Regions from separate parts of the Homo sapiens genome. Here region 2 is linked to region 1. Evidence: fine-mapped expression QTL. A gene starts in region 1. The other region holds a variant in brackets. All regions are shown on one strand. Distances are from middle to middle.

Evidence for each region. PIP is the estimated chance that this variant, and not a neighbour inherited with it, causes the effect.
Region 2: its variant is fine-mapped to the expression of SLX4IP in whole blood (TOPMed, PIP 0.99).

What each region holds. Positions count from the first base shown.
Region 1 is chr20:10,433,581-10,436,495 of GRCh38, forward strand. SLX4IP (SLX4 interacting protein) reads left to right here and starts at 1,725. Exons shown (of 8, transcript NM_001009608.3): 1 at 1,725-1,873. It overlaps MKKS (MKKS centrosomal shuttling protein), which reads right to left and starts at 642. Exons shown (of 6, transcript NM_170784.3): 1 at 528-642. LOC128706665 reads right to left here and starts at 642. Exons shown (of 3, transcript NM_001394148.2): 1 at 528-642. LOC128706666 reads right to left here and starts at 642. Exons shown (of 3, transcript NM_001394149.2): 1 at 528-642. RefSeq lists enhancers at 489-548, 1,439-1,668, 1,829-1,878.
Region 2 is chr20:10,462,243-10,465,157 of GRCh38, forward strand. All of the region lies in intron 2 of SLX4IP (SLX4 interacting protein), which reads left to right. Among named protein-coding and RNA genes, the nearest start is that of SLX4IP, 28 kb to the left of the region's middle. The variant A/G (reference allele first, on the strand shown) is at 1,521.

The DNA.
Region 1 (2,915 bases):
CATGACCTTAGAGGGTCATCCCTACAAGGTCCACAGCCCTGCAAGCCCCGCGGCTGCTTTCACGTAGCTGGCAGGGCCACGCTGCACAACGTCTCTAACGCCGTCGGAGGGCGGCCCCCACCTCCCGACAGCCTGGGGTACACCGTGCACCCTCCAGACAGTCAGGGGCACACGGGGCCCCTCCCAGCGAGGGAGGGGACGGGGAGTCACAGGTTCGGCGTAGAAGGCGGCAGCGCAGGTGGGAGCGTGGTGAGGCGCCACTCCTCCAGCTCTCCCCACCGGCGGGAAGACCTCCTCGCCGCCCGCATCCGTGCCGACCGCAACATTTACCATCGGCAGCTATTTCAGAGGTCGGTCTTTCGCCTCCTACAGAGAGCCAGCCTCCTCCTTGTCCCCGCCCTCAAATATCCTTCAGTGAGGACACCGGTGACCTTTGGGGGTGGAGAGGGAGGCGCCTACAAGCCCCTTCCCCTCTCTTCGGCCGGACACAAAGCGGGCTTTTCCACCTAGAGTCCCAGCGCTCTCACCTGCGCACCAGCCGTCGCGCCGCCCCAGGCCGCCACCGCCAGAGGCCCCAGAAACAGATCTCAAGCAGCCGCTGCTGCCGCGGATCCCGACAACCTTCGCGTCGCGCGAGGGCACGGAGCACGCGCAGCTCTGCGGTCGACGCCGGGCCGCCCCCACTCCGCTTCTCCGGGTTTTCCGTGAAGCTCCAGCCAACAGCGGCCGTCACCGGAAAAAACGGGGAGCGAAGTTTATTCAGCGTATATTCCAGCAAATTGTTGAAACTGAAATTTTAAAAGAACGCATAAAATTTAAATAACATATCAAAATGGCACAGCTTCTGCCTTTTGGTGAGCGCTTGACAATGATTTATTGAATGAAAGAAAGAAATAGTCCACTGCGCTCTGCTCTCTGTCCTGACATGACCAATTACAAAGCGCTTGGATTTGTCGCTCAGCGCCAGTATCCCGCCTCTCTGTGCGGTTGTCTGGAAAATCAGGATTTTTACTCTCCCGTAACTCCCGGGATCGGGTTTGGAAAACGGACATGCGCCGTGAGAGCTAGTTGCCTTCTACTAAAGCATCCGCCCTCAGTCCTTCCTGAGGGCTTACAGGGAAGTGCGGAGTTTCGCAGCTCGTACTCTTCACAGATTAGATAATTCACCCGGCATTTCCCCATCCTGCTTCTGGGTTCCAGGACAAAACTTTTATTCTCTTTTAACATTAAAAAACATATAGGAAGTTATGTTCAAACATGGCTATTTTTATTAAAATTTATCCGGCACTGTGAAAGCTACCTTTCCTTTCTCACAATCTTTCGCACCGAATATATGTTCCATTCTTGAGCTAGTCATTTTCCAATGTTAAGAAAACACACCACAGAAAAGCGTTTTTTTTTCTCTCGGTCAGTTCAACTGCCTAGCACCGTGAGTTACCATGATACGTTATTTGCTAATGAGAGTCATTGGGGTCCCAGCCTTTAAAAATAGCCTGCGTCCGGCGCCATTTTTGTTTTGGGCCCACTTTGAAAGCCGCGATATTCTGAACAGAGGCCATTTTTCTTTTGGGCAGATTCCACGGGCCATCGAAGTGTTTCGCTGCCATCTTAAATCCTGGCTGTGGCCTCAATCCTGCAGCGAAGCTGCCCAGATCATTTTGTGTTTGGGCGGCGGCTGAGTTCCCAAACGCGCGCGGAGACCCTGGGAAGGAGGAAGTAAGCGCGAAAGTGCTTCCCTTAAGCTTCTGAAGGTTGGCTGCAGTTCCGGCTACCTGTGTAGTCCGAGTTTCCACAGCCAGGTACTACTCCGCCAGTGACCCTGGACAGTAACAAAACATATAAAGCCCGAGCCCAAACCCCGCCACCATCATAGGTAAGCACATGGACCTCTGACAACCTCAGATGTTCCTTCAAGTGAACTGAACTGTTTGCCCATCTCCTCCCTCCTGGTTTTTGGCTTTGATTTTTTGAGACTTTTCCGAATCCTTCTCCCTGTACTTCCACCTTTCTTCATTGTTTTCAAAAAGCCAAAAAGTTGCTAAACATCAGGATGCCATGAGCATGGGCATTACGGTGGAGATATTATTCAGGAAAGTTAACTGTCTTTGCACAAAGGGAATGCAGTAGATGGGCCAGGTATTTGTATCAAATCATGGCTACCTGCATCCAGCAGTACAAATACCTCCCCCTTCCCAGACATTTTTGGAGATGTGAGGTAAATACAGATTGCGTTTGTATATACTTCCCATTCATTCATTTATTCATTGCATTTCTTGAGTACCTAATTTGTGCTAGGCCATAAGGATTCAGGAGTTAGCTAAAAAAAATCCATTAACTCATGGAGCCTACATTTTATCACCTTGACATCTACTAGGTTGAGACAAATAACAGTATTTTATGGTTCTTAGCACTGCTAGACTGTATAAACAAGTATTTGCTTTCTCCTTCCCCTGAACTATTTTTTTTTATTTTTAGTTTTTAATTTTTTTGGCCGGGTGTAGGAATTAATGGTATTGACACTTACTTCTTGGATCCTAGACATAACGATATTTGTAAGCCAGTTGGCTAGCGTTAAAACTAATATTCCAGTTACTTAGGGCCTTGTTGCTCCAAGTTCATTTCACCTACCACCAGCATCAGCATCCCTGGGAGCTTGTTAGAATTACACTTCATGACTCTCACCCCAGAGCTGCTGAATCAGAATCTTCCTCAAGAAGTGTACCTTAAAGTTCAAGGAACATTGATTCAGGGCATGGGCTAAAGATACAGCCCTTTCTTTCTTTCTTTTTTTTTTTAGATGGAGTCTCGCTCTGTTGCCCAGGTTGGAGTGCAGTGGCGCGATCTTGGCTCACTGCCATCTCCGCCCCCCGGGTTCAAGCAATTCTCCTGCCTCAGCGTTCCCAGTAGCTGGGATT
Region 2 (2,915 bases), 29 kb after region 1:
AAAACAAATGGTTGAGAAAATATTATGAAAGAAATAATGCAATACAATTTACTGGAAGTGGAGGATACAAACTTCCTGTTTGAAAGAGCTGTGAGTGAATACACAATAAAGTCAATGAAAAAGAGTTGTGCTAAGGTATATCATCCTAAAATTTCAGAACACTGGGAATTTAGAGAAGAACTTAAAAAGCAAACAGATTACAGACAGAGAATCAAGAATCAGAACACCCTTCTCAACAGCAATAACTAGGAGACAGTAGAACAATACCTTTAATATTTTAGGAAAAATGGTTTCCAACCAAGAATTCCCTTTACAGCCCAACTTTCAGTCACATGGTAGAATAGAGACATTTATTTTTAGGATGCAGAATGTAGAAAACACTTCCCTTCTGATGCACACTGTTTTAGAAAGGATGTGGTCTTCCAAAATAGGGGAATAAACAGAGAAAGAATCAGATATGGGATCCAGGAAATAGGGAACCAGTCAGATGAGGGCCTAACCAAATTCCTTGATGATTACTGTGTATTTTGCCTAGAAAGTGTAAGGGTGGAAAGGGTATGATCCTTTCTTCCCCATCATGGAGGGTCACAGTCAGCACTCCTGTAACAAAAGAATAAGTTAACTAAGGAAAGCATAACAAATTTATTATGTGCACACAAGTGCATGGGAGTCATACAAAATATGAACACTCAAAAGCTGGATGTGATGGCATATGCCTGTAGTCCCAGCCATTTGGGGAGGCTGAGGCAGAAGATTTGCTTGAGCCCAGGAGTTTGAGTTCAGCCTGGGCAACATAGAGAGACCCTGTCTCTAAAAACAACAACAACAAGAAAAGAAAACCCAAAGAGCCAGACGGTTGACCCTTAATACCCTCTTCGTTGGGGAGAGGGAACTGGGAGATATAGGGGTAACTGATTTTTAGGGGAAATGAATGGACTCGAGAGACAGAAATTAACTTGTAAATGATTCTCTTTAGAATTTGAATGAGCCGAGAAGCAGATAATACCTAGTTGAAATGCCTGTCCACTGTGTGGTTGCATTCTTTAGTCTTCTCTGCTATAGATAATTTCAGGGAATATGGAAGGCAATTGTGTTCCTCTTTGGGTATCCAGTTTCTGGGCAGATAATAGAGCTTCAGCGGAGAGCCTCATCTTGTGCTTTGGGAGAGATAACGGATTGAGAGGAGGAGGGGAGGAGGTCAGAGAGACCTTGCTGCTGCTTTTTTAGTTTAGCATGTCAAAGTGTTATATTTCTGGGTATTGGTTTCTGAACTGCAACCAAAGTAACCAGTCCTATTGGAAGAAGACAGAGGGTTCCATGAAAGATTTCTTCAACAAAAAATGAAATGAATAAAATACATCATGTATTTAAATGCATTGAGAAGAGATTTTTTTAGGCCTGTCAGGTAGCATGGGAATGATTTAGTCATAGGAATATAGAAAACTAAACAAAAGAAAAATGATGCAACCCTCAGTTCTCAGTAAACAAAAGATTGTGCAAGATAGGAAATTAAGCATAGT[A/G]TACTACGTGGCTCAACTTTTTGTTCTTCTTGTTATAGAGATGGGGTCTTGCCCTGTTGCTCAGGCTGGAATGCAGTGGCACAGTCATAACTCACTGCGGCCTTGAACTCCTAGGCTCAAGTGATCCTCCTGCATGGTTCAGCTTTGAACAGAGGTTACATTTCATAATATTGTGAACTCCAAGTTTTGGAAGGCTGGGGAAGGAAACATGTGGGAGGGCAGGTATAAGGATTAAGTCTTCATTTTCCACATAAAGTATATAAAACTGAAATAATAAGACATTCGTAGGATAAACATAGTGTTTAGAAATATGTTGGCAAATTACCAGATCAAAAAGCTAAGTTTCAGTGTGGTTGCCCATGGTGAGTGAGAGTTGGAGTGAGAGAGGGGGCTGGATGAGGCAGAAGAGGCCATTTTGTTTTTTTGTTTGTTTGTTTGTTTGAAAGATGGGGTCTCCTTATGCTGCCCAGTCTGATCTTGAACTACTGGGCTCAAACAATCCTCCTGCCTCAGCCTCCTGAGTAGCTGGGACTACAGATGTGCACCACTACACCCAGCTTGAGACCTCACTTTGATATGTCGTTTTAATATGTGTCTATGCATTAATATAAAAATTAAGTGCATAAATAAAATGTAGGCTGCGTACAGTGGTTCACATCTGTAATCCCTGCATTTTGGAAGGCCCAGGAGGGAGGATCACTTGAGGCCAGGAGTTAGAGACCAGCAGCCTGAGTAACATAGTGAGACCCCATCTCTAAATTAAAAACAATAATAATAAATAACATTTAAAAGGAATTAATTAACTTATGCAAATTTTTCACATAGATGCAGCCACTTTTGACTGGGTTGAAAAGTACTTGGTTAGAGCAGGGTTTCAAAGTAACAGAAAAATTGATGAACACCAAATAGTTTGACACTTCATCTGGGTTGTTTATTCTAAGACTGCCCTTGGAATGGCATTAATTATTCATGCAAACGACTTACCCATCTGACCTTCCTGCATATGAATACTTTTTTTTTGTTTTTAAGGGCTGTGGTTCTGGCCTTGAATTCTTTTTTTTAATCACTATTTTTTAGAGACAGGATCTCGTTATGTTGCACAGGCTGAACATGAACTCCTGGGCTCAAACTGTCCTCCCGACTTGGCCTCCTACGTAGCTGGGACTACAGGCGGCACTGCCACCGCACAGCTGGCTCTTGAACTCTTTCAAGAGTTGAAGACTCTTCTGAGGCCAGACTTCCAGGAAATGGCAGTAGTGCATGAGATGTAGGAATCCTTGGAAGTATAACTTTCAGGGTCTATAGACTTCTGGGCTACTGCAGCTTCTAGCAGGGAGGTATGTCCTGTACTTCAGTGAGTGACTCTTATTTTAACTGAAAGAAGTGGTAGCAGCA